Linked DNA regions of Homo sapiens. The protein of the gene in region 1 interacts with the protein of each later gene in a pairwise test. Each region holds a gene or a part of one and is shown in the gene's direction. Other genes may lie near its edges.

Region 1 (7,031 bases):
GCCTCTTGGGGGCAGAGGTTACAGGGAAAAGAGAGATGGGGGGATCGTCACAGGGTGATGAAATGGAAAGCAAACTTTTCTAGGAACCCTATTTGCAAAAATCGGAGAGTGCCGCTGATTTCAGTTGTCCTACATGTCAGGAGTTTTAAACCTAACTCCTATCTGGACAACAGCATGGAGGGACTGGGAGGCAAAGCCTTGGGAGTCTGACCCGCTGGGCTGCTAGGAATCCCTTTGCTGGGAGACTCCACTGGACAATGTTATTTTAAAGGTATTTTGGGGGTGGGCAGGGAGAAGACAGAGAGAGAAAGAGAGAGAGAGAGAGAGAGAGAGAGAGAGAGAGAGAGACAGGCTGGCCTCCCAGAGCGAACGGAAGAGGACTGAGGACTGAACCCAGGGAGCCCCTAGCACTGGCCATTTGGCAGGAGGCGAGGAAGGGCGAGGGCACCGCGGCTTCCCCCCAAGCCGAGCAGTGGCCACAGCCTGAAGGTGCCACGGGGCGGCTCTGGGATCTTCTTGGCTTTTCTAGGCTCTGGGCTCGGCGAGGCTGCCGGGTTAGCGGGAACCGGCAGGTTGCTGGAGAAAGGAGAGGGACAAAGGCCTGGAAGTGGGGGAGGCACCAGGGACTGGGCGGCCGGGATGGGAGCCTTTGCCTTTAGGGCTCACTGGACCCGTTTGCCAGCTCCGCGGACAAGGGATCCCACCTTCCCAGGGTCTGCAAAAAGAGAGACGTTTGGGGCACTACAAAGTGACGCAGGTGTCTGCCAAGACTTTCCTTCTCCAAAAAATGCCAGTCTTCACCCTTTCCAGCGCGCCGGCGCTGCGCCTCTGCTTGACCGGGGAAAGAGAGAGTTTGGAGGTGTCAGAACTGTCAGAACTCCGGATGGGAGGCTCTTGGTTCTGAAGCTGGGAGCTGGAGGCACTTCCCCCCAGAAGTGGGCACTTCTTTGCCTCCCCGAAGGCCTGATGGGGTGGGCACAGGGGAATGCCAGGGATCGGTGCGGGTGAGATGCTTGCCTCACCTCATGTTGACGCATCAATACTGGCTAGAAGCTCTGGGCAGGCTCTGGCGAGCCACGGTCCCCCAGCGGGACTCCCTCCACGCAGACAGCCCCGCTACCGGGTGGGACGACCCCGGCGGCCCCCGCGGGAACGCACCCGCCGGCCTGAGAGGTCCTCCCTCTGGCCACAGGGGGCGGAGGGTAGGGGGGAACAGGGGCCTGTGGGGAGGCGGGGAAAGGAGACAGAACCTAAAGCGCAATCCCCGCCGCCCCCCCGCGTCTTGGAGGGCAGCAAGTGGGCCTCGGGCGTGTTGGTAGCCGCAATTAAAATGGCGACCTGCGAGTTGTCTCGGTTTTGTACACACCTCTGGCAACCGCGCCCGCACCTCAGTCTCGGCCCCCACACCCCTAGGCCGCTTCGCCCCCAGAGCCGGTACTTGGCAGAGGGAGTGAGGCTCCCCACGAGGTAGAACAGCACCCCCACCTTCCTTGAGACCAGTCCAGAGAGAACGAGGAAATCTCACTCTCACCCCTCTCTCCTTAAACTTTGAAAACTCGGCCTCATTCTGGGGTTGAACTCCCCTCCCCAAATATTGACACATGGGAAGCAGCCAAGTCCTTTTTGTTTTTTGTTTGTGCGGAGGAGTTTCCAGGAGTCTTTCCCGGAGCCCCCTTCCCCACCCAATGACGTCAGTGGCATTCACTCCTCGCTCCTTGCCTTTTCTGATTTTTTGTTAAAACTTTTCTCCGCAGCGAGATGGGGGTTGGAGGGGTGGGAGAAGGAGCTGATTCAAAGAGCCAGTGCCCTGGGGGGAAATAGCAACAAGATTACGGCTGCTTCTTTCCGAGGCAAAGCTTAAGAAGGTGCTAATCCACTCGGTCGCTAATTGAGAGGTTGTAAAAATGATACTCGCCTCCAGTTCGGACAGAATCACTTCCCCCCCCCCCGCCCCCCCGCAAGTCCCTCGCTCATGCACAGCGGACTTGAGTCTTGAGTCCAAGCTTCTTTAATGCTCGCTTGGAAAGTAAAAGGAGAGAGAAAGAGAAAGCCGACTTTCGCTGGTCTGGGACTCAGGGCCGCGGCCCCACTTGCCGGCATCCTCCGAAAGTCGCGCTCCTGCGAAATGAAACCTCGCCCAGGAGGCCGCGGACCTGGACACCCGGCGCCACCTCCTTCACCTCTGACCCAGGTTTCCTCCCGGCGCTGCGAGCTCCCGGGGAAGGGTTAGAGCCGGCAGCCCTCCCCAGCCCGGGGAGGGGAGAGGGTTATGCGACCCCACCTCTGGCTAGGGCCGGGGAGGCCTTTGCTTCCCGGGAGCCCTGCCCGGGCTCCTTGGTCGCAGGGCTGCTGGGTCCCAGGCAGGAACGAGAGGGTGAGGCCCACATGTGGCCCGGCGGCCCAGGGCGGCTTGCAGCGTCCTCACTGTCCCGGCTGCCAGGGGCTGCGGCGACGCGGCCAGTCAGCAGCGAGTTCAGGTCGCGCAGATTTTATTGATGAGCTCTGACTTTCAGCACTTTCCCTAAGTCAAGAAGAGTCTAGCGTACCCTTCGGCTGCTTCATTTCAGCCTCCCTGCCTCAGCTCTTCAGCCCTATTCCCCCTCGCCCTGTCCTGGGGTGTGTACAGCAGCCCAGGCCTTCCTTCTCCTTCCCGGCTCCGTGGCCCGAAGCCGCCGAGAGAGCTCGGGACAGCGCAGGACCAGGCAGCCGCTCGCTCTCCTGTCACCTTAACTGCAGGCTCCGAGGGGCGCCTTTGGAGTGTACTGAGGTGTGTCCTAATCGTGCGGCATTCAACAAATGGACTTCTGGTGTGTGGTCAGAAGAGAAAAGCCATTTACTTACTTTCCTCCCCGGTTTTCTGGCAACAGCTGAAGGGGAGCTGCCTCCGTGGACTGAGCAGACCCAGGAGAGGGAGTCGTGGTGCGGAGACACACGCACCACACACAGATGACCGGTGGCACACACGACACACGCTGACATACCGACATCGCCAGTGGGACACACACACACACACACACACACACACACACACACACAGAGAGAGAGAGAGAATCCCTCCCAGCATTGGTCATCCGCCCCCCCACCCAGGCTTCCACTCCCCCTCCCCTCTTATCTCCCCTGGCTTCCCCTCCTCTCGGGCGCTGCGAAAAGCAGCCGCACTTAGTCAACAAATGGCACGTGGGAGAAGTTGGTGAGTGTTTGGTGAGGACTCTTCAGGGCTTTTCACAAGAACCCTCTGTACACAAAGTAAGTGGCGTGTTTACTCGGGCCTCTCCAGCCAGAGCTGTGCCTCTGCTCCGCTGCGCACCGCGGCTTCCGAAAGGAGAAAGGAGAGAAGAAAGGGCGGGGAGAGCGGGGTGGAGGATTTGGACAGGCCCTGGAGGCTTGGGCTGGGGAGGCCTCTGGCCTCGTTTAGTTCTCGGCCCGGCAACCTCCTCTCGGCCTAGGCTTCGCCGCGGCCTCCGCAGCTGGAATGGAGCTGCCAGGACCCAGTGACGCTCCCGCCCCTTTCCTCTTCTTCCAAGGGGCCAGGTGGGCTGGGGTGCGGCCGCCGCTGTGCTCTGTGTCTTGGGGCCCCGGCTGGGATGGGGTGGGGGCGGGCGGGGGCGGGGCGGCAGGCCACGCTGTCCTGGAGTTGGCAAGAAAGGACAGCACAGAAACTTGCACCCTCCGAGGACTGGGAGTCCCGAGTCCAGCTTAGGGGGAGTGGGGGCGCGACCCCCAACCCAGAAACCTTCACTTGACCGCTCAAGTTCGCGGCAGCAGGGCGGGCCGCGCCGAATCTCGGCGTGCGCGGAGCGGGGAGATGCAGGCGAGCGCCAGAGCCCGGGCTCGGGGGCCCTGCGCCGGGGAGAGGAGCCGGGACCCACCGGCGGAGCCGAAAACAAGTGTATTCATATTCAAACAAACGGACCAATTGCACCAGGCGGGGAGAGGGAGCATCCAATCGGCTGGCGCGAGGCCCCGGCGCTGCTTTGCATAAAGCAATATTTTGTGTGAGAGCGAGCGGTGCATTTGCATGTTGCGGAGTGATTAGTGGGTTTGAAAAGGGAACCGTGGCTCGGCCTCATTTCCCGCTCTGGTTCAGGCGCAGGAGGAAGTGTTTTGCTGGAGGATGATGACAGAGGTCAGGCTTCGCTAATGGGCCAGTGAGGAGCGGTGGAGGCGAGGCCGGGCGCCGGCACACACACATTAACACACTTGAGCCATCACCAATCAGCATAGGTGTGCTGGCTGCAGCCACTTCCCTCACCCACACTCTTTATCTCTCACTCTCCAGCCGCTGACAGCCCATTTTATTGTCAATCTCTGTCTCCTTCCCAGGAATCTGAGAATTGCTCTCACACACCAACCCAGCAACATCCGTGGAGAAAACTCTCACCAGCAACTCCTTTAAAACACCGTCATTTCAAACCATTGTGGTCTTCAAGCAACAACAGCAGCACAAAAAACCCCAACCAAACAAAACTCTTGACAGAAGCTGTGACAACCAGAAAGGATGCCTCATAAAGGTGAGTCCGCTTCTTTCTTCTCGCTTTATTTTTATTGCAATATTCAGACAGGTCTCCCCCTTCCTCCCCCCTTCCTTCCTCCCCTCTCGCCGGTCCCCTCCCCCACTGCTACGCCGGGAGAGTTGGGCCGGAGAAGTTTCCACGCAGGAGCCCAAACTTTCTACTTCCAGCGAAAGCCCGCGTCGGAGGGCGACTGCCGGCGAGCGGGAGCGGCGCAGGGCTCGGGGCGGGCGGCCAGCTCAGCCCCAGCGCCAGCGCCAGCGCCAGCGCGGGCTGAGCTCGCGGGAAGAAGGGAGACTCCAGGCGCGACAGCAGCCGCGGCTCCTAGCCCCAGCGTCGCCCAATGCTCCCGACCCGCGGGAAAAGACGAAGAGGCTCTGTGGTGCCCAAGGCCCTGGAACGGCCGCAGAGAGCAACCGCTGCCGGCTGCTTTGTCCAGCCCGAGGCCCAGCGAACGCGCAGAGAGCGGGCGCTCCGAGGACTCGCCGAGGGAGCGCCGAGGGAACCTGCTCGCCGCGTCTCCGCCCGCCCGCCGGCCCTCGGGCTTTGTGCCGCACTGGGCTCCGGCGCAGAAGAGTCAGCCGGCACTCGAGCGCCGAGGGGGGCACCGCGCCCGCCACCAGCCCGAGTGGAGTCAGTCGGCAAGGCAGCCGCACGCTGGAGGTAGAGGGAAGAGCGAGCTAGCGCGAGCCGGGAAGGAAGCCACCAGGCCAAGGCGGTGGAACGCGCGCTCCGAGGGAGCTCAGAGCCGAGCGGGAGGACTGTCAGCTTCCACCCAGCCCCCGGGCTCTTGCCCCCAACTCCACTGGAGCGCTGAGCTCGGAACTTGAAAACTCTCTGCTCCCCAGGCTTCCCCCGACTCTCATCTCCCTTGCCTTGCGGAGGCTGGGGCTCTTCCCTGTTCTCCGGCCCCCTGCGCTTGGTGGGTATTTTTCCTTGTTTTCCTCTGATCCAGTCTCACCAGGTGTTGGGATTTCAGCAAGTTTTGAGGTGCAGAGTTGGTTTGCTTTTTTGTTTGTTTTACTCCGAATCCCCTTATGTTTTTCTTGGTAAGGCCTTGAAAATAAATCTGTATGAAAGCATTGGCCTTCCCCCTCGTCTGATCACTTCTTCTCCCGGCTAATTAGTCGGAGTAATTTGAGAGCTTTCGATTCTAAGATCCCAGGAGGAAAAGTGTCTTTTCAAAGTTCATAAAGTTGTTGCCTCTTTCCTTGTGCAGATTTTCTCAGTCTCCCTGCGCCATAATAGCCCTGAATTTTAGCAAGTGTAATTGGGGGAAATGGAGTTGAATTTCAAGTGGAAATGCTTTCTTTTTCGAGTGCTAAAACCTGGCTCTTCATTCATGAGCGATTTCTAGAAAGTTTAAAAACAAAGTGAACGTGGTTTCTTTCTTTCTTCCTTTTTATTTTTCTTATACTCTCCCAAGCTCCCTAAGCCATTCTGGACGTTTAACTCGAACTTGGGAAGGTTTTAGAAGGGGCTGGGAGCAGAAAATGAAATGAAAGGCAAAGAGCTTGAGCCTGGCGAGTTTACTGAAGAGAAATAATAGTTGTTGCGGTTGACATTACATTTTTTATAGCCAGTGACCTTTGCAAAAGCGTGAAGGCAGTTTGATTAGTTGTTATCTTATTTGGCCCTAGAGAGTAAAACTTTGTCATCATAATTGCTAATTACTCTTTTGGCTGGGGGCGGGAGGACCGAGAGCTCTCCCCTTTACCTCAGTTAAAGAGTTTGGGGATGGAATTTGAGAATTAAGTAATTAAAAAAAGAACAGCATTTGAAAACTGAGGCTTGTGTTGGGGACAGAGAGGTGGGGGCAGTGACCACTCTCTTGTGGTCCAAGGCTGGGGCGACTCCAAAATGTCTGGAGACTCCTTCGTTCAGGATGTGGTTCTATGGCCCCAGCGAGGCCGTACAGAGCCTCGGGCTGAGCTGGGGGGCTGAGGCTGCAGTTGGGGGTCTGACCTCTCCGGTGCACAGGACTGCTTCCGGGTGTCGATGTGCCCCACTTCCCGGGTTGCTTCTGCACTTAGTGTTCACGTTTACTTAAGTAATTAGATAGCTTCTTAGCGAGAGGGAAGTGGGAATGGAGCAGAACTGGAATTTGAAATACTACCACCTTCCCAGCTGCTTCGAAAACTAATCAACGAGGCCTCTTTGTGCTCAGCTACTGAATTTAAAAAAAAATGGTATCAAGAAGTTACAAGCCAGGATGGGAGCATTCTGTTGTGATTGTGCACAGCGTGGGTTACAAAGTGGAGTTCTGGAAGTTTTACCCCTCCTAGGGGAATTCCATTCCCCATCTCCCCACCTACTACTCCTTTGCAGCTTCAGGGTCCTGCATTTGTTGGGGTGGGGTATTTTGCATTAGAGTTGGAGATTTTGCCTATCCAGGGCATGGCTATGGGTGCCGGGACTGAGAGACAGGAAGGAAGCATTGGAGAGCCAACCTAGATAAGGGTAACTAGTAACCCTCTGCTGTGGCCAGTATTTACCCAATGCTGAGAAAAAGTCCTCATT
Region 2 (7,033 bases), on another chromosome or scaffold:
CCAAGGCCAACTTCGTAAATATACATTGAGGTGAACCATGAACTATTTTGATAGCATAGGGCTCACTAAGATTCAGAGATAAATATTTAATATGTCTTTTAAGATCTTTTTATAGTCTTTGTGTTGAAAGATCAGCCTTTATCCTGAGTCTTACTACTCCCATGCTTTCCTTTCAAAGTTTTGAATCATTTGTTTGCGGGTGATTTGACCCCATGAGGCACACCTAATTTTGCAAGACTTTTGAACTTACAGTGTTGCTTACCTTGTTCCCCTCCTGCTCATTAAAAAAATGTCTGCTACAAACTTTCTACATATTCTTTATTAGGTAAATTTATACAAAATTATCCTTAACCAAATATTTTATATTTTCTACTACTTTTAATATTTCTCTTACAGATTTTATGTGATTTATTATTACCTGAAAACTTAAAAGAAGGCCTGAAGGAATCTTCCTGGAGTTCATTACCATGTACTAAAAACAGACCTTTTGATTTTCATTCAGTGATGGAAGAGTCTCAGTCTCTCAATGAACCTAGCCCAAAGCAGGTACGGGGTGAGACAAGGTTATCATGAGTTTAGCGTATCCATTTCTTTACGAGTTAAGAGCTTCACTTTCCTAGTTTCAAGTACTAGCACCTACTTAAGTACTTTTAACCTGGTTAGTTATCATAGTAGAATTTTTTCCATAGCCTTTACTTTACACTAAAATCTTTTATGTAAAATATTTGCTAATGAATCACAATTTTAGGTCCCGTGAAAGAAAACTTTTAGTTCTTTAAAAATATGTATAGAACATTGCATTTATGTTTCCTCAGGGTAGTAACAGCTGTGTTATAGCATAACTACTTTTAAACCTCATTATAACATAAGTCACCTTGATTTCTAGGGCTGTGTAAGTACAGTCATCCCTTGTATCTGTGGGAGATTGGTTCCAGGACCTCTCACAGATAGCAAATCCAAGGATGCTCAAGTCCCTGATATATTAATAAAATGGCACAGTATTTGCATATAACTTATGCACATCCTCCTGTATACTTAAATCATCTCTAGGTTACTTATAATACCTAATACAATGTAAATACTATGTAAATAGTTGTTATACTGTATTGTCTAGGGAATAATGACAAGAAAAAAGTCGATATATGTTCAGGCTTTTTTTTAGAATATTTTCTATCCCCAGTTGGATGAACCCACGGATGCAGAGCCTGTGGATACGGAGGGCCAACTGTGCTGGCAAAAATCATTTACTTGTCACAGTGTTGGAATCAAGTTAGTGCTATTAAATGAACATTAAAATGAGCATTATAAGGCATTGAAATTTCATTTCAGTTTGATTCTTGGTGAGAGGAATAAAGGATAGTAAAGAAATACAGTTACCTTTGTTTATTGTATTTTTGTAGAGTGAAGAAATACCAGAGGTCACTTCAGAGCCTGTCAAAGGAAGCTTAAACCGTGCTCAGTCAGCACAGTCTATAAATTCAACAGAAATGCCTGCCAGAGAGGACTGTTTAAAAAGAGTGTCCTCAGAACCTGTTCTGTCAGTTCAAGAAAAAGGTGTTCTGCTGAAAAGAAAGTTGTCTCTTTTAGAACAGGATGTGATTGTAAATGAAGATGGAAGAAATAAGCTGAAAAAACAAGGAGGTAAAAATTTTGCTCTACACTTATATAAAATAAATTTATTTAGTCAGAATAGTCTTTAAAGTTTTTCCTAAGGAAGAAAACCCCATGTCTTTGTTTTAATAGAAACTCCCAATGAAGTCTGTATGTTTTCCTTAGCTTATGGTGATATTCCAGAAGAATTAATCGATGTCTCAGATTTCGAGTGTTCTCTCTGCATGAGGTAAGCATATAAAACTTTATAGAAGATGAATATTTTATGTTAGTATACATAAAATACCGTGTAGATAAAGGTAATAATAGACAATGTAAAGTAACACAATGCTGGAATAAAAATCAAAAGACATGAATTTTAGTCCTGGGTTTACCTTTCATGCCTTGGGCAAATAACTGAATCTCTGAACCTCAGGTTTCCTAATTTAGAAAGTGGGATCAAGCTTTGCATGGCCTACATCTCATTGTTGTGAGAATCACATGGCTTCAGTATAAAAGGAATCTGGGAAATTGTAAAGTACTAAGAAAGTTATAGATGATATTATTTTTGAAACTTACCTATCTCCATGGTTTTAAATTTGGGTATGAATTCTAATTAGTATTTTATGTATATGATCCTATCTTATTAATGTATATTAACCATAAAGTCTTTTTAAAGTAACATAAGGATAAGGATTTCCATTATTCAGAATGCTATAATTCTAAAAGACTAAATGTTTTGAAATAACATTTCTCATTTACATGAATTGTGTAGGATCAAAAGATTCATACGGGGTCAGGAGGCCTAGTGCTGGTCACACTAGGCTGGTAGCAGTTACATTCCTGAGCAAGTCTTAATTCTGAGCCTTGGTTTCTTCATCTGTGAAGTGAGGGGATTATACTAAACAGTCCCTAAAGTACCTCTAAATCTATTTCTAGCAAATTCAAAACTATCATGTTTCAGAAAATAAGTAAAACTAGTTGTTCTGTAATGTTTGAATAATACATTTAGTATTAAGTCTAACATTAGGATTCAACTGCATTATTTATTAGGTCATTCTTTTTATGAGTTTTATATCATAAGGGTCTTATAAACCTATTAAGGAATCATTTTTAAGTTGATATTAAAATGGGAATCTAAAGGCTATACAAAAGCTAACTAATGATTTTTAATGATGTATTTTACATTATTTATTTTGCAGAAAGTCTTTGAAATCTGGTATGTATTTTACATTCAGTGCACATATCAGCTTGTACTAGCCACATTTCAAGTGATTAGTAGCCATAGTGTCCAGGGGCTGTTGCGTTAGTCAGGACAGCTCTAGGCCCTTGGCTCTAGGCCTTTGGCAGGAGGCCTTTGTTGATGGAGAATTTTAAAACATTCTGGAGGGTATGGTTACACTTATCACTGCCCTTTCTCTCCTCTCCTGCCTGCTGGGCCCTCCTTCTTCCTCCTTTAAATAGAGATTAGTGTTATGGTTCTAAAGTAGTACAAGCTTTTCAGTGGATAGTTTAATGTGAAAACTAACATGTATCTTGGTTGATTTCAGGTTGTTTTTTGAGCCAGTAACAACCCCTTGCGGACATTCGTTCTGTAAGAATTGTCTTGAGCGTTGTTTAGATCATGCACCATATTGTCCTCTTTGCAAAGAAAGCTTAAAAGAGGTAAATATTTGTATATGTGTCTGTTTGTTGGTCTTAAGTTTGGCAGCATGGTTTAATTTCTGTTCAGCCATAGAAATAGTGATGATCACGTTCAGAATTACATTCTATATTCTGAGTGACTAACAAGGATAATGTTTTATTACCCATATGCTAATGTTGGAGAAAAGTGAGGTTGAAGAGGATGGGGAGAAAGAAGACAGATGCTGAAGACCAACCCCCTTGTACTTAATTTTTTTTTTTTAAACAAAAGTGGGTATGGTTAGTTATCTGGTCAGGGATAAGTTCAATTTTGGTGATGACTATACTGGGGAAACCCTATTGCCCTGCCTCCAACCCTCAATAATAAGCCAGATGTGAGGACTGTTTCAGCTTCCTCAACATCTAGAACAACTTTGTTCAATAGAATTTTCTGCATTGATGGAAATGTTCCATATCTTTGCTGTCAGATATATTAGCCATTAGCCATGTTTGCCTGTTAAGCTTTTAAATATGGTTAGTGTCACTGAGGAACTATATTTACATTTTATTAACTTAAATTTAAGTAGGCACATGTGACTAATGGCTGCGACATTGGGCAATGCAGCTCTAGAAAAGTGGTAGATTGGAAAGAAGAGAGGGAGGTACAGCTTCCTATTCCCCTTCTTGTAGAGTCAGTGATCAGTGCTAATAACCTGTGATAGGAAAGTAGCTAGATCTCAGTGGATGTCTTCTCTAATTGATGAGAAGAGAGCACCCTCTTAATCATGCTTGAGTGACTGCAGATCACCTACTGTCAGGCTAAAGCCTGTGATTCTGAGAGGCAATTGCAGTTTGTAGCGTTGATTGGGGAAAGTGATTCTGTCTCTGGTGATTGACAGGATTGCTTAAAAAAAAGTATCTTCCAAATATGAATTGAAAAATTCATAAAACCATTATGAATATACATACAGTATTTCCTGTATAGAAAACAACTCAGTACGGATGTCATAATAGCATGTCTGTTATTACATTTGATATGTGTCTTACATATATAACAAGCTGATATGTAAAACAAAAGCATATTTAGAATTTTCTCAAAGTCAGGAAACATCAGATACATTTATTCTTAAAAGAGTTTGTTAGTTACATTTTTAGCTAATATGCTCAATGTTTTTAGATGAAGTACTGTAAACATGCTATTTTTCCAGACTTCATTTAAATACCCCCCCAGGATAACTATGATGCTTGTTTTTCCAGATTAACTGTTAGGTTGGTGCAAAAGTAATTGTGGTTTTTGGCATAATATTAGATCTATTGCTTTGATTAGGGATATTCCCTCTTTAAAAAATGTCTGGAGATTGAAAAATATATACTAAGCATATTTTTTGAAAGTATAACTAACATACTATTTAGCAATATCCTGTTTCCAACTTTGAAGATACCCTGCGTAATATAATTTGTAAATTCAAAATACATATACTTTAAAAAAGATTGGTATGCTGTTCAGTTTTACATTTTTCCTACTTGTCATTTTATTTTGCTCATTTTTCCATTTCCATCTATTTTAGATACATTGTTTTTATAGCAGCATAATAGTCCAGTGATTTAACATTTCTTTGTTGTTGGATATATAAGGTTTCTTGTTCTCTTTTTTATATACTATGCTTTTGCCAACATCATTTAAAATGAATGATTTTATGCATCTTTATGTAATCGAAGATATTATGACAGATATTATATATCTGTCACTGAAGGACAGAGTTGAGGTCTGCTCCTCTACTCAGTAGTGGGTGACAATGGAAGAAAAACTTGAAAGAAAAATTATCTACAGACTGTGTCTGAAATTGGGAACAAAACAGATGTTTTGCTTTTCTTAAATAAGGCAATAACCATTTCCTTAGGTTAAATTTTTGGGAGGTGAATTATTGGATCAAAAGCCATATATTTATGAAGCCCTTAAAACCAATTGTTGGATTGCCTCATCCCCAGAAATGTTACATTTATTGAGATTTTTATCAGTAATGTAAGAGTGGCTGTATTTCCCTAGATGTTTAAACATCTTTATTAACTTAATAGAAAATGATAATGGAATTGCTTTTATGACAGCTAATTTGATTAATTTTGTGATAAACACTTATTATCTGTGTATATACTACCTGCCCAAGGCCACCTCTCCCCATGCTCCCCTGACCAGCAGCATCTGTCACCTGACAACTTGTTAGAAACATAGATTCTTGGACCCTACCCCAGATGCTCAGAGACTCTGGCGTGGGGCTCAGTAGTCTGTATTTTAACAAGCCGCGATTCATGCTAAACTTTGAAAACCACCACCAGTTTCCCAACCTCTCGCATTTCCCCATCTACTCTTCATTGGATAATGACAAAACCCTTGCTTTTACTGACTGCAGATTCAAGGATGGCTTCATCTTGTGATAGTTTCCCAGGAGGTTTTCCTCACTAATTTTATGAAATAAATATGTATTGGGCATTTTCTTTGTACAAAGTTCTGTGCATACACCCTGACCATGTCCCTGGCCCTACCCTAAGCAATTTTTAGTTTAACTACAGAGATGTAATATATCTGTGTACATATACTACACGCTACAATGCCTACTATGTGGTAAAAACAGTAAAATATGGGTTCTTGGGAGAGAAAAAAATAATTAAGGAAGAGTTTGTGAAAAAGGTAAAATTGGAGTCAGACCTTGAAGGATAGACATGTTTTGCATAAGCAGGAGTGAGAGAGATGGCTTTTGTAAGTTGGAATAGAGAATAACACAAAAATGCATGAGGATAGTACTTTTTCAGAGTATTTAGGGGTCAGCGCAAATGTAAGATTTTATATAGAGCTGGGGTAGATGGATCATACAGGAAAAGCAATATCTTGATAAGGGTCTGAGTGATAGTGTCCCAAGAAACGCACCTTCCTTGGGTCACTCAAGGACAGAGTTGAGGTCTGCTCCTCTACTCAATAGTGGGTGACAATGGAAGAAAAATCTGAAAGAAAATTTATCTAGAGACTGTGTCTGAAATTGGGAACAAAACAGATGTTTTGCTTTTCTTAAATAAGGCAAATGTGTTATTTTATTTATTCCTTATCCCGTTTTTGTATCTCAGTTAAAATGATAGTTTAGTGCCCATGAGCTGTCAGGTGGAAAAGGGCCTCTGTTGTGGAAGACGGCAGGGCAGGGCCCTCTGCGGCTAATAGAGAAGCTGTGGTCACAGCAGGAAGCAGTTCTTCTGTACAGGGCTTGGTTCAGGTTGCAGCCAACTATCTTTACTGCTCTTGTGCAAAGCCTCAGACAGGTTTTTTTGCTTAGCATCATCCATTGTAATGTTCCCCTCACTAATTAATCCAGAATTGATGGTATAAGTATGTAATAAAGGCTTTAATATATCAGTTAACTGTGTTGCCTGTTTTATACTGTAGGAAAACCACTGCTGGAATGTAAAATAATATTGTCTTTTAGTATCTAGCAGATAGGAGGTACTGTGTCACACAGCTGTTGGAAGAATTAATAGTGAAGTATCTGCCTGATGAACTGTCTGAGAGAAAAAAAATATATGATGAAGAAACTGCTGAACTCTCACAGTAAGTTTCTTCTCATAAAAAAAATTATGAACTACTACCCTTTAATAGTAAGGAAAAACCTCACCGCAAGCTGGATCCTGTCTTTAGTTCATCTCAGTCTAGTCAAGAAGTATTGGTCTGTTTCCGTGGTCCTCAACAGACAGAATCTTATAAAAGTTCACTTGGTAACATCCGGATGTTTTATAGGGAGTTATTGACTCAGCTCTGTGGGCTGAAGCAGTATTTTGG
Region 3 (7,288 bases), on another chromosome or scaffold:
GTGGCTCACGCTTGCAATCACAGCACTTTGGGAGGCTGAGGCGGGTGGATCACAAGTTGAGGAGTTTGAGACCAGCCGGCCAACATGGTGAAACCCCGTCTCCACTAAAAATACAAAGAATTAGCTGGGTGTAGTGGCGGGTACCTGTAATCCCAGCTACTCGAGAGGCTGAGGCAGGAGAATCGCTTGAACTTGGGAGGCGGAGGCTGCAGTGAGCCGAGATTGTGCCACTGCACTCCAGCCCAGGTGGCGGAGTGAGACTCCATCTCAAAAAAAAAAAAAAAAAAAAAAGGCGTAGCAAGGGAACAGGATGCAGGTGGTAGAAATTGAGTAAACTTATTGACTTTTTAAAATTAAAGACTATAACTGAAATGTTGATCTAAAGAAAATTAGGTATGACTAAGCAACTGAATAAATAATAATACTAAAGTGATCCCAACTATTGGAGCTTTTAGAAGACTATGTTCTACTTGGTTGCTTTTCTATAATGTAAGAGGAATACATAGAATATGAAATTGTTGCTTTTGGAAAATATACTTTTAAGATTATCTCAATGAAGAACTGATTTCTCCTGTAGCCTGGTTTTACTAATTTATAAGCAAAATGACTAAAGCTCAGGTATACTATGAAGTTAATTCTTTAATATTTCCCCTGCTAGGAACTCTGTATAGCTTCTGCAGACATGGGGTTTGATGATGTGATATAAGTAGATGTTTATATTTTACAATCCATGAAGGTAGTCTATACTGTGCTCTTAGAACAGCAGCCATCTAATGTCATTCTTAGTTGACAGGTAAACAGTATGTTACGTATGTAATGAGGTTCCACAAAGACAATAGTGTTTTGGAACACTGCAGAGGCAATAATTTGCATATTACCATCATTTTATAGTTATGAATCAGTGACTGTGATGTGTTTCCATTACCCCTATTTTTGAACAGGCGTTCTGTTAAAAGTATTCTATTCCTTTCTTAGATATGGGATGTTTAGGGGAGAGGGGACACATTACTTGTTTTCTTAGTTACAAGTCTCCATGTTGAGAGGAGTTACACTCAAGGATCTTCATCCACATGCACATCTGGTACAGATGACAAGATCCTGGACTTTAAGCCAATGATATGAGACAAAGCATTTTGGGGAGGGATGTAATTTGTTGTGGTCAGAGGGTGGCAAGAGAAACAAGTGACGGTGAAAAAATTCTGGCCTCGTGATTTTTCAGTAATAATTAAGAGCACAATATTACAACTGCAAGGGTGAAGGTATGTGGGCTGAGGGAAAGGGATAGTTTTGGAGGGTGCTATATTGAAGGCCCAGAAGAAGTAAACAAACTTGGAAAAAATTTACTCCACATTGCTAATGACAGCCTGTACTCTGTTTCTATAGCTTTACAACATTGATTATACAAGACAATGCAAAGGAGTTGAAATTAGATTTTTTTTTTTTTTTTTTTTTTTGAGACAGAGTCTCATTTTGTCATCCAGGCTGGAGTGCAGTGGTGTGATCATGGCTCAGTGAAGCCTTGATCTGGGCTCAAGTGATCCTCCTGCTTCAGCCTCCTGAGTAGCTGGGACTATAGGTGCGTGCTACCACCCCTGGACTCAAAATTCGATTTCAAAGATGGCATAAGCGTATTGATAGTGAAATGAGGAACGTGGTTTATTACTGTGGGAAAAGCTTGAGTTTAATGTAAGACAGACTTGGTTTAAAATTTATATTCTGCCACTTACTGATGTGTGAACTTGGGCAAGCTATTTAATACCAGCTGGATGGTCTCATAAATATTTTTATTTTTTATATATTGTTTTGGGAGTATGTCACAAATGTATTTTTTAGAATCCTTCAACTGTCAGTGGCTAGCTCTAATGTGAAAGGAGGTTAGCCTAGAATTTTCTCTGAGTGCCCGCCCTTCTGATGTTAAAAGTCTGAAGCCTACTTAGTAATAATGAGGTTTCAGCCCTTTTGCCTCTAGAGAGAATGAGCGACAGATAATGACAAATGAAAATAGCACTTTAGCTACATGGGAACATAATTTGTGTTCTTACTCCAAAAGCAATTTATGATCATTTTTAAAAATTAAGACTTTTTAAGAGCAGTTTTAGGTTCAAAGCAAAATTGAAACAAAGGTACAGAGATTTCCCATATACCCTCTGCCCCAACACAAGCATAGTCTTCTCTGTTATCAACATCCTCAATCAAAGTGGTACAATTTGTTGTAACTGATGAACTTACCTCATCAATTATTACCCAAAGTCCAATTACCACCCAAATTCCTCCTCATCTTTTCATGGCCTGATCTTTTTTTTTGAGACACAGTCTTGCTCTGTCACCCAGGTTGGAGTGCCATGGTGCCCTCTCAGCTCACTGCAAACTCCGCCTCCCAGGTTCAAGCAATTCTCCTGCCTCAGCCTCCTGAGTAGCTGGAATTACAGGCGTGAGCCACCGCGCCCAGCCAGCTCATTTCTTTTTAGCACTAAATAATGTCTATTGTCTGTATGTATCACAGTTTATTTATTCATTTACCTACTGAAGGACATATTGGTTGCTTCCAAGTTTGGGCAGTTATGAATAAAGCTGCTATAAACAACCATGTGCAAGTTTTTGTGTAGATAAGTTTTCAGCTCCTTTGGGTAGATACCAAGGAGTATAATTGCTAAATCATATGGTAAGAGGATGTTTAGTTTTGTGAGAAACTGCTAAACTCTTCCAAAGTGGCTGTACCATTTTGCATTCCTACCAGCAATGAATGACAGTTCCTGACCCACATCCTCACCAGCATTTGGTTTTGCCAGTGTTCTGGATTTTGGCCATTTTAATAGGTGTGCAGTGGTTGTATGTGTTTTAGAATGGAACAGAAAACACAAGATTGGCTTTGATATTTTGCAAGATAGAAATTCCATTCTGAACAACTGACTTACTGTTTATGCTTGAATCTTTTTTTGTTTTTTTTTTTTTTGGAGACAGAGTCTTGCTCTGTCACCCAGGCTGGAGTGCAGTGGCGTAATATCGACTCATCGCAACCTCCGCCTCCCAGGTTCAAGCGATTCTCATGCCTCAGCCTCCTTAGTAGCTGGGATTACAGGCATGCACCACCACGCCCAGTTCATTTTTGTATTTTTTAGTAGAGATGGGTTTTGCCATGTTGGCCAGGCTGGTCGTGAACTCCTGACCTCCGGTTATCTGCCCGCCTCAGCCTCCCAAAAGTGCTGGGATTACAGGTATGAGCCACCATGCCCGGCCTATGCTTGACTCTTTTATTAGTTGGAGCTGTTAATATTAATAACTTCACCAGGTCAGACAGGTTGAGTGGTAAGTTTGCTGATAGGTTTGATGGCTGCTTCTGAGACCCAGACCCAAAATCTAGGTTTAGCTACGTTAAGAAGGCAACCACTACAGATAAGTGTCCAATCATGAGATCTCTTAAAACAATGATGGAGTCCAACCCTGTTAGGAAAATCCTTTTGCTAGACAGAGAATCTCAGATCTCTTTCCTCCTGGTCATTATGTCTTGGGCTAAAAGGAGGACATTTAACATTTATTGTATGCCAAACAGTGCTAGGCCATTCCGCATGTTATCTTATTTAATCCTCATAATTTATCTATGAAATATTTTCTGTTGTCCCCATTTATAATTCCAAGTTGTTTTTTTTTAACCTTCCCAGACTTTATATCTGCTACCTCTCCGCCTAGAATAGTGTTATGCCTCCTTTTTGCATAATGAATGCCTACTTATTCCTCAGAGCTCATGTCAGATGGTACTATTTTAAGGAAGCCTTCCCAGTCCCCTAGGTTTGTTTCCCTATTAAACTGATCAAAGGCTTGATTCCCTGTTACACTTCACTGATCAAAGTGCACTGATCTCAATAGCACAAATAACAATGCGATTACTCATTTAATATCTGTCATTTCTGCTGAAGTGTAAGCTTCATGAGCACAGTAACTGTGCCTGTATCATTTTTCTATGTTACTTGTAGTGCCAACTATAGTTCCTTGTTCAGTAAGTAATTATTATATGATTATGGCAAATAAATTCCATAAACAGAAGTTGAACGCTGGTCCACTGTAACTTCAAAACCTTCCTTCAAATTATACCATGTGCAGGACCTAAGAAGTCGAGGAAGTATTTCTTAATAAAATTACTCCAGAGGCTCTTCCTGAACTCTATTTCAGTTCTAGGTTGGCTACCTAACGATAAAAGTTAAGCATTAATTTTATGTGGTTAGGGTGTGGTCTGAGATAGAGAACCTAAAGTCTTTAAAGTCTCCCCAGTTCCAAGTAGGTAATCCTTCTGAGAAGTCCCACCTTTCTGAGCAGCTGTGTTTGAAGAAAGCTAGTGGGAAAAGTTCCAGGATTACATGTCAGGAAACTACAAGAGGTAGAAACATTTGTTGATTTACCAGTGTTTTTAACTTCCTGCTGGGCTGAAAACTGCTTGTTTCGTGGAAAAGCAAAACTTGACAGCAAACATCTAAAATGAAGAGCTCCCAAACTTTTGAGGAACAAACGGAATGCATTGTGAACACTCTACTCATGGACTTCTTGAGCCCAACATTGCAGGTTGCCAGCCGGAACCTATGCTGTGTAGATGAAGTAGATTCAGGTAAGGTTCCTGCCCTAGGCGGTGATTGCAGGTCAATAAGAGTATGTTTTCAGCCGGGCGCAGTGACTGATTCCCGTAATCCCAGCACTTTGGGAGGCCAAGGTGGGTGGATCACCTGAAGTCAGGGGTTTGAGATCCGCCTGGCCAACGTGGTGAAACCCCATCTCTACTAAAAGTAGAAAAATTAGCCAGGTGTGGTGGCTCATGCCTGCAGTCCCAGCTACATGGGAGACTGAGGCATGAGAATTGCTTGAACCTGGGAGGCGGAGGTTGCAGTGAGCTGAGATCACGCCACTGCACTCCAGTCTGGGCGACAGAGACTCGGTCTCAAAAAAAAAAAAACAGTATATTTTATTTATTTCCTTTAAGTTTCAAAAGGCAAACTCTAAGCTTTCAGTAACACCTAAAGCGAAAGAGGTTCTCAATGAAGGGAAACTTTCTGACTATTGGTGTTGACAGAACATTTAAGCTCTTGGGAGATCATGATATGAAAATTATTTAAAAGACAAGACAAATTTTTCTCATTGCCCAGATTCCTGGGACTTGCCATTGCTTCAAGCATTGTAACAAATGTGTTCCCTCTGTCATAGGAGAGCCTTGTTCTTTTGATGTGGCTATCATTGCTGGTCGCCTTCGGATGTTGGGTGACCAGTTCAACGGAGAATTGGAAGCTTCTGCCAAAAACGTCATTGCAGAAACCATTAAGGGACAGGTCAAGTTTCTACTTCATGCTATTGTTTGCTGCTTTTTTTTCTATTTCAAACTTCCTTTTCTTACTACTCCCATACTACAGTGACTAGGAATGTTCTATGAAAATATTTGGGTGCTTATATTTCAAGGAAGTATAGCAAGAATTCTCCAATTGCTAAAACCTAAGTGGTACAGAGATGGAAAATTTTGGGCATAGGCTGATGAACCTTCAGTTTGTCTCTACTTGGTCTTCATCACAGCTGTTGTGCTTAGTGTGCACAGAGCACATTTATAACACTTTATTCTTGGCAAAGTATAGTATCTTTTTTTTTTTTTTTTTTTTCAGACAGGGTCTTACTGTGTCACCCAGGCTCAAGTGCAGTGGTGTGATCTCAGCTCACTGCAGCCTCCACCTCCTGGGCTCAAGCGATCCTCCCACTGCAGCCTCCTGAGTAGCTGGGACTTCAGGCAAGTGCTACCATGCCCATCTATTTTTTTTATTTTTTTATTTTTAGTAAAGATGGGTTTTTGCCATGTTGCCCGGGCTGGTCTTGAATGCCTAAGCTCAGGTGATCCACTCACCTCGGCCTCCCAAAGTGCTGGGATTATAGGCGTGAGCTACCACACCCAGCCTATGCTTTTTTTTTTTGAGATGGAGTCTCACTCTGTCACACCCAGGCTGGAGTGCAGTGGCGCGATCTCGGCTCACTGCAACCTCCACCCACCGGGTTCAAGCAATTCTCCTGCCTCAGCCTCCCAAGTACCTGGGACTACAGGGGTGAGCCACCGCGCCTGGCCCATCTGGGCGGATCACCTGAGGTCAGGAGTTCCAGACCAGCATGGCCAAAATGGTGAAACCCCGTCTCTACCTAAAAATACAAAAATTAGCCGGGCGGATCACTTGATGTGAGGAGTTCAACACCAGCCTGGCCAACATGGAGAATCCCTGTCTCTACCAAAAATACAAAACTTAGCTGGGTGTGATGGCCCATGCCTGTAATCCCAGCTACTTGAGAGACTGAGGCAGGAGAATCGCTTGAACCCGGGAGGTGGAGGTTGCAGCGAGCCAAGATCACACCACTGTTCTCCAGCCTTGGCGACAGAGCAAGACTCTGTCTCAAAAAAAGAACCACCCTCTTAACCGTTATGCTTTATTCGTCCTACTATACACAGCTTGGGCAGTGTGCCTACACTATGTTCAGGCAGAGCTGGACCTGTTACTCCCAGTTGCTTGCCCTGAGGCTGTCCTAGGTAGTTGATAGCTGAGTTGACTTTTTTTCTCATTAAACATATTTTTTTTTTTGGCTGGGTGCTGTGGCTCATGCCTGTAATCCCAGCACTTTGGGAGGCCGAGAGGGGCGGACTGCTTGAGGCCAGGAGTTTGAGACCAGCCTGGCCAACATAGTGAAACCCCATCTCTACTAATAATACAAAAATTAGTTGGGCATGGTGGCACACACCTGTAATCCCAGCTACTCGGGAGGCTGAGGTAGGAGAATTGCTTGAACCCAGGAGGCAGAAGGAGGTTGCAGTGAACTGAGATCTCGCCACTGCACTCCAACCTGGGCAACAGAGCGAGACCCTCTCTCAAAATAAATAAATAAATACAAATACAAAAATTAGCCAGGCATGGTGGCACACAACTGTAATCCTAGCTACCTGGGAGGCTGAGACAGGAGAATTGCTTGACAGGGAGGGGGAGTTTGCAGTGAGCCGAGATGGTGCCATTGTACTCCAATCTGGGCGACAGAGCAAGACTCTGTCTCCAAAAAAAAAACATAAATAAATAAATAAATAATTTGACTTGAACTTGTTTTAATAAAAAAAAATATATTTTGAAACAGCCCTAAACTCAGGGAAAGGTTGCAAGGATAGTACAAATAATTTCTCTCTTGAATCATTTGACAGTAAGGAGTTGACATATTTCATCAACCCCTAATACTTTTATACTTCCCTCAAACAAGAACATTCTGTAATGTAACCACAATCTAACCATCAAAA
Region 4 (4,708 bases), on another chromosome or scaffold:
CCCCGTCTCTACTAAAAATACAAAAAAAATTAGCTGGGCGTGGTGGCGCGCGCTTGTAATCCCAGCTACTCGCTACTTGGGAGGCTGAGGCAGGAGAATCGCTTGAACCCAGGAGGGGGAGGTTGCAGTGAGCCGAGATTGTGCGCTTTTGCATTCCAGCCTGGGCGACAAGAGTGAGACTGTTTCAAAAAAAAAAAAAAAAAAAAAAAAACCTCAAAGACGGGAAAAGATATACAGCTACTGCTTTCTATTCTGTTTAGGAGAAGCTATATTCTAATTGCTTGATGAAAGATAGTGACAGTCTGATATTGAGCAATTGCCTTTAGTTAATAATGGGTTTATAAAACCAAAGATGCTCACTAAGTTCGGAAAAATTTTAAAGGGATCACTTAAATTGTTGTTAGTGTGTGCCTGTTGAAAATTCAGCTGACCTGTAATTTTCTGGCCTAGTGTCTGCACTGCTTGGGGAGGAAGATGAAGAGGCACTGCATTATTTGACCAGAGTTGAAGTGACAGAATTTGAAGATATTAAATCAGGTTACAGAATAGATTTTGTAAGTATCTCTAACTTAATCTTGTTTGCCACTGTGGAAATTAATGTGAGCTTTGGTTGGAAGACCTGTTCATATTTCTAATCTTTCAATTATTTATTACAGTATTTTGATGAAAATCCTTACTTTGAAAATAAAGTTCTCTCCAAAGAATTTCATCTGAATGAGAGTGGTGATCCATCTTCGAAGTCCACCGAAATCAAATGGAAATCTGGAAAGGTATGTTTTGAGGAATTATTTGACAAAAATAGCATTTTGCCTATTTCAGTTTAGTTTTAACCACTTACAAGTGCTTGATACTTTGGTCATGTGGCTAAATACAAAACCTTAAAATATAAAACGTTCCAGTGTGCTGAAGCCAAGTATTACAGTAGTTTAGGGTTCTCATTAGATACTACAGATGTAGGCAGGAAGATCTCTTGAGCCTAGGAGTTTACCCTGGGCAACATAGACCCTTACCTTCCAAAAAACAAAAAAAAAGAGAAAAATCTAGCCCAAGTTTAAGAATTGAGAACTGGACTAAATTTTTTGTTGCTGTTGTTTTCTGCAGTGGTGACTGAGCTCTTCAAATGGCTTGCCATTTCTCAAAATCATTTACATCCGTATTTAGGTAGTAAGACATAGTTTAGATATTTATACTGTGTTGTGCTAGTGGCTGTTAACAGTGGAACTAATTTTATGGAAAACCAAATGTAGTTGATACTACCTCTACCTGCTGCACAGTTTTATAATTGCTCTTAGGTAATAATGGTAGCGTAGATAGTATACTGATATTTGTTTTGCTTAGCTTTTGGGGAAAATCTTATTTTTTAAATTATAGGGAGTTTGGGTGTTATGGAGAGATTGTATCAAAAGCTCTTCCGGTATTCATTTAGGATTTGACGAAACGTTCGAGTCAAACGCAGAATAAAGCCAGCAGGAAGAGGCAGCATGAGGAACCAGAGAGCTTCTTTACCTGGTTTACTGACCATTCTGATGCAGGTGCTGATGAGTTAGGAGAGGTCATCAAAGATGATATTTGGCCAAACCCATTACAGTACTACTTGGTGAGTTCTAATACTCATTTATTCAAGGTTGGACTTGTCTCGGTTGTTTAAAAATGAGTCCTTATATTGTGCTTTTTTTTTTTTAAGGTTCCCGATATGGATGATGAAGAAGGAGAAGGAGAAGAAGATGATGATGATGATGAAGAGGAGGAAGGATTAGAAGATATTGACGAAGAAGGGGATGAGGATGAAGGTGAAGAAGATGAAGATGATGATGAAGGGGAGGAAGGAGAGGTAAAAGAAAATTTGGCTAAACCCACAAAGATAACTTTTAAAGAATTCATGTTATTTTGGGGTGTATATATATATATATAGTGTGGTAGAACTGACCAGAACTGATTGTGGAAAAAAAGTAAGCCATTTTGTTGTTCAAGAATTAAGGAAATGTTTGATAAGCACATGGTACTAATGTTTAACTAGGTTTTTTTTGGTTTTTTTTTGGGTTTTTTTGGTTAGACTTATCACCACCCAAGCTTGTTTTTCCCTAGCCAGTACTTAGGCAATATAGGCAGTGTAGCTGGTCAAATTCTGACATCTCTGAAATAACAAAGTTTCATGTATTTTCGACAAACTGCACAATTTCTGAATAGTCAAATTAGGATAGGTTGGTTTTATTTCGGATTATTTGATCCGAAATATACCTGATTTGGTTAGAACTGAAGTTACTAATTAATCTGAAGCAACATCATCACGGGTGTTTCCTTCGATGCAGCTGACTTACAGGTTTAGAAACTGGAGTGCCCCCAGGGGCACTCGTGGGGTCCATTGTGGTCCATATGAAAGCAAGTCTCAGCATTAATCCTGAAGATTAACTGCCCACTTTTTCTTTCAGGAGGATGAAGGAGAAGATGACTAAATAGAACACTGATGGATTCCAACCTTCCTTTTTTTAAATTTTCTCCAGTCCCTGGGAGCAAGTTGCAGTCTTTTTTTTTTTTTTTTTTTTTTTTCCCTCTTGTGCTCAGTCGCCCTGTTCTTGAGGTCTCTTTTCTCTACTCCATGGTTCTCAATTTATTTGGGGGGAAATACCTTGAGCAGAATACAATGGGAAAAGAGTCTCTACCCCTTTCTGTTCGAAGTTCATTTTTATCCCTTCCTGTCTGAACAAAAACTGTATGGAATCAACACCACCGAGCTCTGTGGGAAAAAAGAAAAACCTGCTCCCTTCGCTCTGCTGGAAGCTGGAGGGTGCTAGGCCCCTGTGTAGTAGTGCATAGAATTCTAGCTTTTTTCCTCCTTTCTCTGTATATTGGGCTCAGAGAGTACACTGTGTCTCTATGTGAATATGGACAGTTAGCATTTACCAACATGTATCTGTCTACTTTCTCTTGTTTAAAAAAAGAAAAAAAAACTTAAAAAAATGGGGTTATAGAAGGTCAGCAAAGGGTGGGTTTGAGATGTTTGGGTGGGTTAAGTGGGCATTTTGACAACATGGCTTCTCCTTTGGCATGTTTAATTGTGATATTTGACAGACATCCTTGCAGTTTAAGATGACACTTTTAAAATAAATTCTCTCCTAATGATGACTTGAGCCCTGCCACTCAATGGGAGAATCAGCAGAACCTGTAGGATCTTATTTGGAATTGACATTCTCTATTGTAATTTTGTTCCTGTTTATTTTTAAATTTTCTTTTTGTTTCACTGGAAAGGAAAGATGATGCTCAGTTTTAAACGTTAAAAGTGTACAAGTTGCTTTGTTACAATAAAACTAAATGTGTACACAAAGGATTTGATGCTTTTCTCTCAGCATAGGTATGCTTACTATGACCTTCCAAGTTTGACTTGTATAACATCACTGTCAAACTTTGTCACCCTAACTTCGTATTTTTTGATACGCACTTTGCAGGATGACCTCAGGGCTATGTGGATTGAGTAATGGGATTTGAATCAATGTATTAATATCTCCATAGCTGGGAAACGTGGGTTCAATTTGCCATTGGTTTCTGAAAGTATTCACATCATTTGGGATACCAGATAGCTCAATACTCTCTGAGTACATTGTGCCCTTGATTTTTATCTCCAAGTGGCAGTTTTTAAAATTGGCCTTTTACCTGGATATAAATTAATTGTGCCTGCCACCACCATCCAACAGACCTGGTGCTCTAATGCCAAGTTATACACGGGACAGTTGCTGGCATGTCTTCATTGGCTATATAAAATGTGGCCAAGAAGATAGGCTCTCAGTAAGAAGTCTGATGGTGAGCAGTAACTGTCCCTGCTTTCTGGTATAAAGCTCTCAAATGTGACCATGTGAATCTGGGTGGGATAATGGACTCAGCTCTGTCTGCTCAATGCCATTGTGCAGAGAAGCACCCTAATGCATAAGCTTTTTAATGCTGTAAAATATAGTCGCTGAAATTAAATGCCACTTTTTCAGAGGTGAATTAATGGACAGTCTGGTGAACTTCAAAAGCTTTTTGATGTATAAAACTTGATAAATGGAACTATTCCATCAATAGGCAAAAGTGTAACAACCTATCTAGATGGATAGTATGTAATTTCTGCACAGGTCTCTGTTTAGTAAATACATCACTGTATACCGATCAGGAATCTTGCTCCAATAAAGGAACATAAAGATTTTTTTTGGACTGGGGTCATTCTCCTTGTTTTATAGAGAAATGTTACTTGCTATTGGATTCAGAAATTGTTCTAGTTTTTTGTCTTCACATCGTTAGTGACTGGGGAAGCGTGGGTTAGCGCTAATGGTATGACATTGGTTTAGAAAGCTTTGAGCTGGTCGGTGTCCGAGTAAAGGACAAATTCAAATATCTTACTTGGATACAGTTTCTGAGTAAACAGTTTCTGAGAGGGTGAGTATAGCATTTTCATTCTGAAGTCTCAAAAGGACTTTTCACTAGGAAGAAAATTGAGTACAGTGGGTCCTGTTATCTGCAGCTTCAGCTACATGTGGTCAACTACAATTCAGATACTTTGAGACTACATTCACACCTATACTGTATGTTAAATGTGTGAATGTATAGTTATAGTATACAATAGTCAAAATTATCCTATACCGTTAATCTCTTACTGTGCTTAATTTGGAAATTAAGTTTTATAGGCAGGTACAGGAAAAATTGTATGGGGCTTGATACTCCTGTGGTTTCAGGCAGC

The links.
Region 2: the proteins of PAX6 (region 1) and LONRF1 interact in binary tests that used the Homo sapiens proteins (3 or more experiments, as listed by UniProt).
Region 3: the proteins of PAX6 (region 1) and BCL2L15 interact in binary tests that used the Homo sapiens proteins (3 or more experiments, as listed by UniProt).
Region 4: the proteins of PAX6 (region 1) and SET interact in binary tests that used the Homo sapiens proteins (3 or more experiments, as listed by UniProt).

Annotation. Positions count from the first base shown.
Region 1 is NC_000011.10:31,808,308-31,815,338, reverse strand, and holds the start of PAX6 (paired box protein Pax-6), read left to right. Parts: upstream 1-4,016; 5' UTR 4,017-4,224; exon of another isoform or gene 4,225-4,323; 5' UTR 4,324-4,498; coding exon of another isoform or gene 4,499-4,511; intron 4,512-5,379; exon of another isoform or gene 5,380-5,433; intron 5,434-7,031. UniProt on the Homo sapiens protein: Transcription factor with important functions in the development of the eye, nose, central nervous system and pancreas. Required for the differentiation of pancreatic islet alpha cells.
Region 2 is NC_000008.11:12,731,508-12,738,540, reverse strand, and holds part of LONRF1 (LON peptidase N-terminal domain and RING finger protein 1), read left to right. Parts: intron 1-396; coding exon 397-546; intron 547-1,180; coding exon of another isoform or gene 1,181-1,269; intron 1,270-1,400; coding exon 1,401-1,641; intron 1,642-1,743; coding exon 1,744-1,840; intron 1,841-3,140; coding exon 3,141-3,255; intron 3,256-6,683; coding exon 6,684-6,805; intron 6,806-7,033.
Region 3 is NC_000001.11:113,884,558-113,891,845, reverse strand, and holds the start of BCL2L15 (bcl-2-like protein 15), read left to right. Parts: upstream 1-4,264; 5' UTR 4,265-4,470; coding exon 4,471-4,597; intron 4,598-5,187; coding exon 5,188-5,309; intron 5,310-7,288.
Region 4 is NC_000009.12:128,692,212-128,696,919, forward strand, and holds the end of SET (protein SET), read left to right. Parts: intron 1-450; coding exon 451-554; intron 555-656; coding exon 657-770; intron 771-1,426; coding exon 1,427-1,597; intron 1,598-1,684; coding exon 1,685-1,831; intron 1,832-2,429; coding exon 2,430-2,453; 3' UTR 2,454-4,185; downstream 4,186-4,708. UniProt on the Homo sapiens protein: Multitasking protein, involved in apoptosis, transcription, nucleosome assembly and histone chaperoning. Isoform 2 anti-apoptotic activity is mediated by inhibition of the GZMA-activated DNase, NME1.